Linked DNA regions of Homo sapiens. The protein of the gene in region 1 interacts with the protein of each later gene in a pairwise test. Each region holds a gene or a part of one and is shown in the gene's direction. Other genes may lie near its edges.

Evidence for each region.
Region 2: the proteins of GTSE1 (region 1) and RBM10 interact in a two-hybrid assay, tested with the Homo sapiens proteins (one large-scale study listed by BioGRID).
Region 3: the proteins of GTSE1 (region 1) and CPSF7 interact in a two-hybrid assay, tested with the Homo sapiens proteins (one large-scale study listed by BioGRID).

Annotation. Positions count from the first base shown.
Region 1 is NC_000022.11:46,327,794-46,331,381, forward strand, and holds the end of GTSE1 (G2 and S phase-expressed protein 1), read left to right. Parts: intron 1-894; coding exon 895-1,096; intron 1,097-1,564; coding exon 1,565-1,774; intron 1,775-2,253; coding exon 2,254-2,337; 3' UTR 2,338-3,017; downstream 3,018-3,588. UniProt on the Homo sapiens protein: May be involved in p53-induced cell cycle arrest in G2/M phase by interfering with microtubule rearrangements that are required to enter mitosis. Overexpression delays G2/M phase progression.
Region 2 is NC_000023.11:47,183,109-47,187,348, forward strand, and holds the end of RBM10 (RNA-binding protein 10), read left to right. Parts: intron 1-1,946; coding exon 1,947-2,096; intron 2,097-2,193; coding exon 2,194-2,259; intron 2,260-2,333; coding exon 2,334-2,522; intron 2,523-2,607; coding exon 2,608-2,682; intron 2,683-2,956; coding exon 2,957-3,063; intron 3,064-3,149; coding exon 3,150-3,279; intron 3,280-3,365; coding exon 3,366-3,491; 3' UTR 3,492-3,705; downstream 3,706-4,240. UniProt on the Homo sapiens protein: Binds to ssRNA containing the consensus sequence 5'-AGGUAA-3'. May be involved in post-transcriptional processing, most probably in mRNA splicing. Binds to RNA homopolymers, with a preference for poly(G) and poly(U) and little for poly(A).
Region 3 is NC_000011.10:61,423,420-61,427,066, reverse strand, and holds part of CPSF7 (cleavage and polyadenylation specificity factor subunit 7), read left to right. Parts: intron 1-3,647.

The DNA of each region.
Region 1 (3,588 bases):
CTGTGTGTATCTATGTAGTTCTATGATAATGCAGAAGACTCTGGAAGAAAATATGCTGGCATGTGTGTGCATTACAGAGGGAGAGGGAAAGGCATGGAATGCCAAAGAGAAAATGAGAAACAAGGCCTCACTGAAAACACCAGATCTGATATATAAATAGGAATATGTGTTTAACTATCTTGTATGTTTGTAAGTGTAAATGTAGAAACAAAATTCTGCTTGTTTTTGGAATTTTCTTATGAAACCTCTGAAGTATTAAAAAGAAGGTACTGTGTGTTAGTTGATGGACCTGCGGCTTTGCTGGGTTTCCGGAAGGAATTCAGTTTTGCGTGGCAGGTACTCGAGGACCTGTGGGCAGCAGGCAAGCCCAGCAGCGCCCGTGCAGGGTCCTGTGGGAGACGCCATTGGAAAGCTGGTGTGGGCAGCCTGTACCTGGGGCCTCAGCCCTGATCAGGGCACTGGGCAGCAGGGGAGGGGGCATCTGGGGCAGAAGGAGCCAGCTGCATACCCACCTAGGCCTAGGAGAAGCCCCCCACTAGCTGCATGCGAGGAGGAGCTGGCCGTGGCTCAAGGAGGGGTCCCTGTGTGTGGTCTGGGCTCCCTTCAGGAGGTGACGGGCGTGCGCATTACCTTGTGTTTAGTAACTAGAAAGGAAGGGGCTAACATCAGCCCCTGGTGATGCTGGACAGCTAAGATTTGTGAGCTGAGAGGAACTGGAGAGATCACTGAGCCCCTTCCATACACAGGAAACTGGGGGTCTGGAGGGTGAAGGCCCTAGAGCCGGGACGCACTCCACCCAGGACACTGTTCCTCCAGAGTGACTTGCTTCCCACATCAGCCAAGTGAACGAGCATTTTAGAGACATTTTCTCATAAGTTTTTTTCCTTCCCACAGAACTGAACCAACAAGGGAGAGCAACAGAAAGACAGATTCCAGGCTGGTGGATGTGTCCCCTGACAGGGGTTCTCCTCCTTCCCGTGTGCCTCAGGCACTTAACTTTTCTCCAGAGGAAAGCGATTCTACTTTCTCCAAAAGTACTGCCACAGAAGTAGCTCGGGAGGAAGCCAAGCCGGGTGGAGATGCAGCCCCTAGTGAGGTGGGCAGAACGGGCGCAGCTGGGTTCTGTTAGCTGAGATTCCTGGAGGCTGCTCGGGAAGCCCGTGGAACCCAGGGCTGTGGCTGGCGGAGTTCCCTGCCATGCTTCATCCTGGGGCCAGTGCCTCCGTGCCAAGCAACCCAAAGGGAGGCAGTCAGGACTTCCAGGCCTCCAGGGGAGAAAGCCCTGCATTTGACTAAGGCAAGGGTCAGGGATCAAAGCTGAGGAAGCGGGAAGCAGGGTGGCAGGAGCTGGTGGCTGCTGGTGAGCGGGTATGGACAGGGAGGTGGGCAACAGTCAGAGAGGCACGGCCCACCCCATACAGAGCCTCCTTCCACCAAGGCCCCGCCTGATTCCTTGGCTTTCCAAACCGCCAGCCCACCTGGAACATGAGCAAAGCTCACATTCTCCCAAGATGGTTGCCAGAAAGATGCTGGACTCTGCTCTTAACCTTGGTTTTGTACCCAGGCTCTTCTTGTAGATATCAAACTGGAACCACTCGCGGTCACTCCAGATGCTGCAAGCCAGCCCCTCATTGACCTTCCTCTCATCGACTTCTGCGATACCCCAGAAGCACACGTGGCTGTAGGATCTGAAAGCAGGCCTCTGATCGACCTCATGACAAACACTCCAGACATGAATAAAAATGTGGCCAAACCTTCACCGGTGGTGGGACAGGTGAGAAGTGGCAGGTGGTTCATGTTGACTCAGCCCTGGGTGTCCTCAGTTCTGGGATTGTTCATCCTCCCAGGGCCATCGTGGGACCCTTGAGAGTGGCTGTTGAGTCTTCTCAGCTACACACCTCAGGGCAGGATGCACCTTTGGCAGCCTGAGCTTCTCAAAGATCAGCTGCCTCTGAGGTGCCCTGCCAGGACCCTGCCAGCTCTTGTTGGACAGGGACCGCCTCTCTCCTGCCCATAGACCCCAGGGCCAGATGTGGGACAGAGGAATGTGCATGGTGGGGGCCTGGGCTTCTCCGTGTGTGTCCTGTCTCCTTCCAGCTTCTTAGACGTGGTGGCCCAGAGTGCTTTTCAGTGCACCCGAGCCAGGATGAGCGAGTGGCTGTGATGACCCACGCAGCCAGTCCTCTGTGCAGGGAGGGGAAGGGAGGCCCTAGCCGGATCCACGCTCACCTCCTCCACTCTGCTCTCTTCCAGCTCATAGACCTGAGCTCCCCTCTGATCCAGCTGAGCCCTGAGGCTGACAAGGAGAACGTGGATTCCCCACTCCTCAAGTTCTAAGCCGAACCAAATCCTTTGCCTTGAAAGAACAGCCCTAAAGTGGTTTTCAACCCTCAGAAACAAGCTTTAGGCTGGTCGCAGTGGCTTACACTTGTAACCCTAGAACTTGGGAGGCTGAGGTGGGCGGATTACTTGAGCCCAGGAGTTCGGGACCAGCCTGGGAAATATAGTGAAACTCCTGTCCCTACAAAAAATACAAAAATTAGCCGGGTGTGGTAGTGCATGCCTGTAGTCCCAGCTACTTGGGAGGCTGAAGTGGGAGGATGGCCTGAGCTCAAGGAGATGCAGGCTGCAGTGGGCTGTGATTGTGCCACTGCACTCCAGCCTGGGCACCAATGTGAGAACCTGTCTTGGAAAAAAAAAAAAAGAAACATGTTTTAGTAGAAGTTTTATTTGAAAAAGAAAAATAAGCATAAATATATTCCCAGTGCTGGAGAGGGTGGGCTGAGGGACTGGGGCCAGCACGGACCACCCAAGGCCTCTGCTTCCCGCCGCCACCCTCCTCGCTGCCATTCTCTGGGCTGGAATGTGAAGCCTCAGTCACTCTAAATGAAGAATTTTCTTTTGAATGTTTTGTATGTAAAATAGCAAGTGGCTATTTTTAAAGTTAAGTTTGTATAAATAGTTAGATATTCTAGATTTACATTAAATTGTAAAATAAATGGACTTATTGAAGCATATCTTGATTTTTAAGCTTATCTTGATTTTCAAACATGCATAGCTATTTTTATCACTCTAATCAGTAAGGCTACTATCTAGACTCGAATGCTTTCATACAAGTGATTTTCAAAAATTAGTCAATAAAAATTGATGTCAGTGCAGGCCCAGGCCCGCCCCCAGATACACTAGTTTCTAGGTCTGGGGCCAGCCTAGTAATTGTTACTAGGCACACAGGTGATGCTGACTCGATGGCCTGAGACACACCCCTTGAGAAGAAGCTGCTCTGGGGAGACGAGGGTATGAGTGGAAAGAGGATGGGCGAGGAGGCCGGGCTTACCTGGACACTAAGGTGATGGACGGCGTCTGCTGGGCAGGCCTCGGGGAGGACCCCTCAGCTTTGCTCTCAGCAGGGGCCCGACAAGCTCAGTGGGCAGTGGCAGGAACTGAGTGCCACTGGAAAGCCCATTCCCTTTATTTAGAAAACGAGCTCCAGGAAGCCGCTACTTTGTGTCCATTTCTCTTGAGGAAACTTACCACCTTGGTTGAGCGGCTTCATGGCAGACAGCAGCGAGCCAGCGGCCGGACTCTGTA
Region 2 (4,240 bases), on another chromosome or scaffold:
TGCCGCATCATAACATGGCAAAGGGCAAGAGAGCATGCATGAGAGCAAGAGAAAATTGGGCCAAACTCCCCCTTTTTATCTGGAACCCACTCAGTGATGGCATTAAATGGAGACTCAAAAGGTGGAGGGGGGCCGGGAGCCGTGGCTCATGCCTGTAATCCCAGCAGTTTGGGAGGCTGGGGTGGGCAGATCACCTGAGGTCAGGAGTTTGAGACCAGCCTGGCCAACATGGCGAAACCCCGTCTCTACTAAAAATACAAAAATTAGCCAGGCGTGGTGGCAGGCGCCTGTAATCCCGGCTACTCAGGAAGCTGAGGCAGGAGAATCACTTGAACCCAGGAGGCGGAGGTTGCAGTGAGCTGAGATCGTGCCATTGCACTCCAGCCTGGGCAACAAGAACGAGACTCCTTCTCAAAATATATATATATTATATATATATAAAGGTGGAGGAGATGGGAGGGGGTGAAGGATGAAAAATTACTTAATGGGTATGATGTACATTATTTGGCTGATGGATGCTCTAAGAACCCTGACTTCAGCACTATACAATCTGTGCATGTAACAAAAGCACTTGTTTATTTTATTTATTTATTTATTATTTTTTTGAGATGGAGTTTCGCTCTTATCATCCAGGCTGGAGTGCAGTGGTGCAATCTCGGATCACTGCAGCCTCCACCTCCTGGGTTCAAGCAATTCTCCTCCCTCAGCCTCCCGAGTAGCTGGGATTACAGGCATCCGCCACCATGCCCAGCTAATTTTTTTGTAATTTTAGTAGAGACGGGTTTTCGCCATGTTGGCCAGGCTGGTCTCAAACTCCTGACCTCAGGTGATGTGTCTGTCTCGGCCTCCCAAAGTGCTGGGATTATAGGCATGAGCTACCGCGCCTGGCTACAAAAGCACTTGTTACCCCATAAACTTATACAATTTCTTTAAAAAGCAGCCGCGATCTCTTGAGGAGGGCAGAGCCTTTGTGACCTAATCACCTCTGAAAGGCCCTGCCTGTCAACACTGTTGCATCAGGGATTAAATTTATCTTTTGAGATGGAGTTTCACTCTTGTTGCCTGGGCTGGAGTGCAATGGTGCAATCTCAGCACACTGCAGCCTCCGCCTCCCGGGTTCAAGGAATTCTCCTGCCTCAGCCTTCCAAGTAGCTGGGATTACAGGCATCCACCACCACGCCCAGCTAATTTTGTATTTTTTTAGTAGAGCTGGGGTTTCACTGTGTTAGCCAGGCTGGTCTCAAACTCCTGACCTCAAGTGATCCACCCGCCTTGGCCTCCCAAAGTGCTGGGATTACAGGTGTGAGCCACTGCACTCAGCCGGGATAAAGGCTCCACCTGTGAACACTGTTGCATTAGGGATTACATTTCTGACACATGAACTTTGAGGGACAAAAAACATAGCAGAGAACACAGCCAGAGAGGGGCTTGGCAAGAAGCACTGGTGACTGGTGACAGAAAATAGGAACTTGCACTACTGTGTCCCTCACCTTCTGATTGTTCTGCCTCAGCTTCCACTCATCTGCCTCCCAGATGGGCCCGCCACTCTGTCCACACTGCTTCTGCCACCTCACCATTGCAAACCAGTGGGGGTGGGGGCACAGGGTGTGTTCAGTGATGAGGTCAGGAGTAGCCAGGTGCCAAGTGCCTTGCAGGCTGTGGTTGCGAGTTTGGGTTTATTCTTGGTGTGATGGGAGGCGAAGGAAGGGTTTTAAGGACATTGTATTTGGGGGTGGGAGTGGCTTATACTTCATGAAAGAGCGCTCTGCTGGGAAAGGTGGTCAGGAGCCGTAGCCCAGAGGCCAGATGAAGCCTTCTGCAGTGGTTCGGACTAGGGATAGTGGCTGGCCCGTGTTTGAGGATGCAGGGCAGTGGGTCAGCAGATAGAGTTAGTAGCCCCAGGGTCATGAGGGTTCTGGGAACCTCACCTCCACCCTCACCCCCAGATTGCCAAGGACATGGAACGCTGGGCCCGCAGTCTCAACAAACAAAAAGAAAACTTCAAAAATAGCTTCCAGCCTATCAGCTCCCTGCGAGATGACGAGAGGCGGGAGTCAGCCACTGCAGATGCTGGCTATGCCATCCTCGAGAAGAAGGTGTGTTGGGGCCACCCCCCTGCACCCTGCCCCACAATCTTGTCCTTCCTTTGGGCCCTCTGTGGAGTCCCTGAATTTCTGTGTCCCTCCACCCCAGGGAGCACTAGCCGAGAGACAGCACACCAGCATGGATCTCCCGAAATTGGCCAGTGACGACCGCCCAGTGAGTGCCCAAGGCAGAGAGGGGCGGGGGCTCTGATCTGGCCAGGCCTGACCGCCCACCCTCACCCTCTACAGAGCCCTCCGCGAGGACTGGTGGCAGCCTACAGCGGGGAGAGTGACAGTGAGGAGGAGCAGGAGCGTGGGGGCCCTGAGCGGGAGGAGAAGCTCACCGACTGGCAGAAGCTGGCCTGTCTGCTCTGCCGACGCCAGTTCCCCAGCAAAGAGGCGCTCATCCGGCACCAGCAGCTCTCAGGGCTCCACAAGGTAACAGCGGATGGTTGGCAGGGCATGCTGGGGCCTGGCCCACTGAGGCTCATCCTCTTCACTTCTCATCCTGTCCCTCTTGCAGCAAAACCTTGAGATTCACCGGCGAGCCCACTTGTCAGAAAACGAGCTAGAAGCACTAGAGAAGAATGACATGGAGGTGAGGTGTGACCTGACCCTGGGCTCCCTCCCCTGTGTCCCTTCCAAGTCCCCATCACCTCAGGCAGCTGGAGTTCAATTTCTCACGTGTTAACCCCGTGAGCCTTCTTCCCCATTTTCCTATCCTGGCTGCTTGTGCCTGTGATGGCCTGACCCTCAGGACCTGAGCCTCATTAGCCAGATGGCATGCCCTGTGGGACCCCACTCCCCATGCCTGTGTTGCCTGAGAAAAGAGACCAGCTCCCCAACATTCACATACACATACAAACTTTCAGCAAATGAAGTACCGGGACCGTGCAGCTGAACGCAGAGAAAAGTATGGCATCCCCGAGCCGCCAGAGCCCAAGAGGAGGAAGTACGGCGGCATATCCACAGCCTCTGTGTGAGTGGCTGGGCCAGGTGAGGGGGTCTGGAGCCCGGGGCCGGGGCCGGCAGGCCGACCACTCATGCTGTGCACCGCCCCTGCAGAGACTTCGAGCAGCCTACTCGGGACGGGCTGGGCAGTGACAACATTGGCAGTCGGATGCTGCAGGCCATGGGCTGGAAAGAGGGCAGCGGCCTGGGCCGCAAGAAGCAGGGCATTGTAACGCCTATCGAGGTGAGTCTCAGGCAGTCCTGTCCCATCCCCCAGCACCCCTCACAGCATCCCCCACCAGCCTGACAGAGCCTGCCTCCCTCACACAGGCCCAAACACGGGTGCGGGGCTCCGGCCTGGGTGCACGGGGCAGCTCCTACGGGGTCACCTCAACCGAGTCCTACAAGGAGACACTGCACAAGACAATGGTGACCCGCTTCAACGAGGCCCAGTGAGCAGCTTCAAGAGCAACTTCTCCACATGTTGGGTGTCCATCCTGGGGCAGGGAAGGACAGAGTGTTGGATGGCTGGGACGGGGCCTTGCTCTTGTCGGCCAGCCCACTCCCCAGCCAGAGAGGGCTTGACCAAATCAAATTGAGGTGGTGACTTTTGTTGGAAAATTGGGCTGGGATCACGTCCTGTTTTGTAATAAAAGCTGAAAAGTCTGCATGTTGGCCTCTCCTCTTTCTCGTGCTCTAGCACAGTTGTATAGCCTATACAGACACGGGGACCCAAGCAGATGGACAGGGGACCTTATCAGGCCAAGGTGGATGGCAGTGGTGGCATTCAGTGTCTGGAACATAATGGCTACTAGAACATGGGGTTCTGACCTGTACCCCGACCCATAATATCCTGGTTATGGCCCCTCTCCCTTGTTGGTTCCAGCAGGTTATGTTGTACCAGGAAATCTAGCACCACCAGGCATGAAGCGCCCCCTGATCAGAGCTAGGACTGGGAACCCCCATCCCCTGTCCTTGCTGCCCCCTGGCTTTACTTAGCCTGCAGTCCCAAGGCTAAACTGCATTTTGCCATCCCTAGATCTGGAGACAATGCCCTCAGGCATCTCCAAGTAGAATACAAGAGGTACTCAGGTTCCAGTTGGCCCAGAGCCCTCAACAGGCTGATGACAGAGGGGTGGAGGTGGAGCTTGGCCTGCAAATCCAAGGCCAGGTCCCAGGGATGCCCTTTGAGAACCATTCAGGCC
Region 3 (3,647 bases), on another chromosome or scaffold:
CCTTAGTTCTTCTCTTTTTTTTTTTTTTTTTTTTTTTTTTGAGACAGAGTCTCTCTTTGTCGCCAGGCTGGAGAGCAGTGGCACCATCTTGGCTCGCTGCAACCTCCTTTTCCCAGGTTCAAATGATTCTCCTGCCTCAGCCTCCTGAGTAGATGGGACTACAGGCGCGCGCACCGCCATGCCCAGCTAATTTTTGTATTTTTAGTAGAGACGGGGTTTCACCATGTTGGCCAGGATGGTCTCAATCTCTTGACCTTGTGATCTGCCCACCTCGGCCTCCCAAAGTGCTGGGATTACAGGCGTGAGCCGCCGTACCCAGCCACCTTTGTTATTAATGAAAAGCTTTTCCCCTTCTAATTTCTTATCTGTGGATTGATAATAGTGCCATTCATTTCACTTTGAGAAATACGCAGAACTCATTGTCCAGTGGTCACTGCTTTGTTAGAGTATAAGTTATTGGCCTCAATAGTTTGTTCTCTGGTCTCCTCAGTTAAAAAGGACTTTTTTATGGGTCTAAGACAGGCTAAAGGTAGTATGTGGACTTTAATAGATACATATATCCAACGGGCAATATTTGACACTAGGCAAGCTGAAGAAAGTGTGAATTTTGAATATCTTATGTTTTGTGGAAGGTGAGGGATGAGTGCTTCCCCCCCACACACATATCAATTAGTTATTTTTGACAAAGTTAGTGTTAGTGTCATCTGGAAGCTACAGAAATTATTTAAAAAACAAAAAAACAAAAAAACTTTGGCTAGAATTGTTAGAAGCTGGCTTAGTCTGAAGGCACCCAGTACAAATTGTGTTTTAGAATGTTTTAAGAATGTTACTGATTTCGCCCCAAGCTGGCCCATGCACAGGAAGCCCTTCATGTGCACTTTGCTCCTCAAGGAAAATTAATATTTTTCCTAGATGGAACCCTATGGTGCTTATTCCCTGATCTCTTAGAGCATTTGCTGCAAAAGCCTGTTTTTGCCAGAGCTACTTTATTCCTGTAACACAGGGAGTCCTGGGATTCACATTGGCTCTCTTGGGCCAGGGAGAACTCTGGAAAGGTGACTGAGATCAGTTGCTCTGCTGGGAGTTTTGGCTTTTCATACTGAGACAGGCTTTGCACAGTGTCCAGTTCTCTTCCTTATGTCCATCAATAAGTATTTATTTATTGAGCTACTTGTGTTTGCTAAGCACTGTGCCAGGACTAGTGAGGTAAAAGGAAAAAAAAGTGGGTCCCTGTACTCAAAACAGATTCCACTCCTGGTGGGTAGGGGTGGTGGACAACGACAATGTACAGTGAAGGACAAGGAGGGTGTGAAGTGGGAACTGTGGAAATGGTCATTATAAAGCCAAAATTTTTGATTAAGCCTTGGTTACAATTAAAAGAAACAATGGTATCAAGTTGGTTGCTCTGAGAAAAATAAATCCTAGGCTAGTTACTTCCCTCAGTGGGATATGAGGAAGAAGAGGGTGGAGGTTAGGAACACTGAGCAGACAAGTGGAGAAGATCTTATTTAAATTGAAAATCACACATGTTCTCTTTTGTTTACAGGGAAGCAGGAAGTTTCATGAGACAGTCACAGTTCTTTCTGTGCCATTAAACACAAAATTCTTTGAGATAGTTATTCAGTATTAAATATATGTTTCATGTTTAATCTCCCTGGAATGAAACTTTGAACATCAGTGCATGTAAAATGTACTTTTCACTTAATTTGTAGAATTTGATTTTACTTTAATCTATTACTGCATAAATCCGCTGAGAAAAATCTCCGGCCCTTAACTGTGTTTCTGTCTTACTAGCTGAACAAGTAAAATGAATTGTGATGCTGGGGGATTAAAATCCAAACAATTTGATACCTTGTTTCTTCAGTAGAACCCTCAACAGACCTGCCCTGTGCAGTTCCCACCAGCTTCTTTGAACTGAGGCTCTGTGGCCCAGAGAGACCATTTAAATCTTGTGATAATTTTGTATTCATTCAATCCTTTTGTTTCTAAAAGTGGTAGCCATACCAAGATTCTCCAGGATCTAGTCTATCCTATTCTTAAGGGATCTTAAAACAGTGGATTGGTTGCCTAAGCATATAGTACGAAGGGTTTCCTGGTGATGCATTTGGTCTCTGAGCTGTCCAAATCTGCATGTTAGTCCACTACTCAATTTTCAGTGATCATTTTTACATTACAAATTTTAGACACATATACCTGAATTACAGATACTGCATGGAAGGGAATCTCAGTTTGGTTCCATTCGATTATCCAAGATGATGTGTTTCCTTATTCTGTTTACGTGTCATTTGAAAATCCTTGATTTAAAAAAAAAGAAGGCTGGGTGCAGTGGCTTACGCCTGTAATCCCAGCACTTTGAGAGGCTGAGGTGGGAGGATCACCTGAGGTCCGGAGTTAGAGACCAGCCTGGCCAACATGGTGAAACCCCATCTCTACTAAAAATACAAAAATTAGCTGGGTGTGGTGGTGCACACCTGTAATTCCAGCTGCTCGGGAGGCTGAGGCAGGAGAATCACTTGAACCCAGGAGGCGGAGGTTGCAGTGAGCCAAGATTGCGCCACTGCACTTCAACCTGGGTGACAAAGTGAGACTCTATCTCAGAAAAAAAGAAGAATCTTGGTGTGAAGTAGTGCTTTCTAAGGATTTGAGCATTGGATGGGATCAAGTGATGTATATAAATCCTTTCTCTACCTTGAACCACAGGAGCAACTCACCATACCTGGTACATGAATAGAAGAGTGATTTGTCTATAGAGTTGGGATAGTTTGAGACGTAACAGCTATGAAATATTTTATAGTGATTACTTACACACAAAATGTTTTCCCACTCATTAGCCCTAGCTGACCTCACCTTACTTTATTATCCACCCTGTCCTCTCCAGTGTTAGCTTCTCTCCTCATTCTTTACATGCTGACCCTTTTTATGCACAATCCTTTTTGATGGATTTGACTACATGGAACAAGCTTCCTGTGCTTATTTGCCTCACTAATTTCTTGTTGTTAAGTTGCCCCCTAAAAGTTTACTGTCTCTTGATATTCTTTTTCTAACGTTTTTACAAGGGTTAAGCCCTCCTGGTGGGTTTCTTAGAGTGTTTTAATATTTGAAATTATTTATATGCTTTAGGAAGTAGAATCCTTCCCCCTTCTCTATCAGAACAACCCAAGATTATTCTCTTAGTGTGCATTTTCTTCCACTGTACTTCAGATAAACTGAAAAACTGAAAGATTGTTTCCAAAGGTTCTTATAATACAAGGACTGGTCTAAGAGTAAATTTTTTAGTGAGTCGTCTTCAGATCACTTCAGAATTAGCAGTTATTGCCGTGATATTGGAGGGAGAAAGTTAAGGGAGCCGCCTGTCTTTAGTTGCCTTGGAGAAACTGTTTCTTCAGGGTACTAGACAAGTTTCCCAACTTAGGTGCCTCCTTTATTCCCTTTTTAAAAGAATAGCAATATGAAACTGCCGTAGCATCCTTAAAACACTGAACTACTTGCTGTCTCTGTCATTTTGGCAGCATTATCTTTAGCATTGTTTGAATGTTTTGTCTAATTCTTGTAATAAAAATAAAATGCTTGTCTAATCCTTAAAAAGATTTCTCTGAGGCTAGGCACGGTGGCTCACGCCTGTAATCCTAGCACTTTGGGAGGCCGAG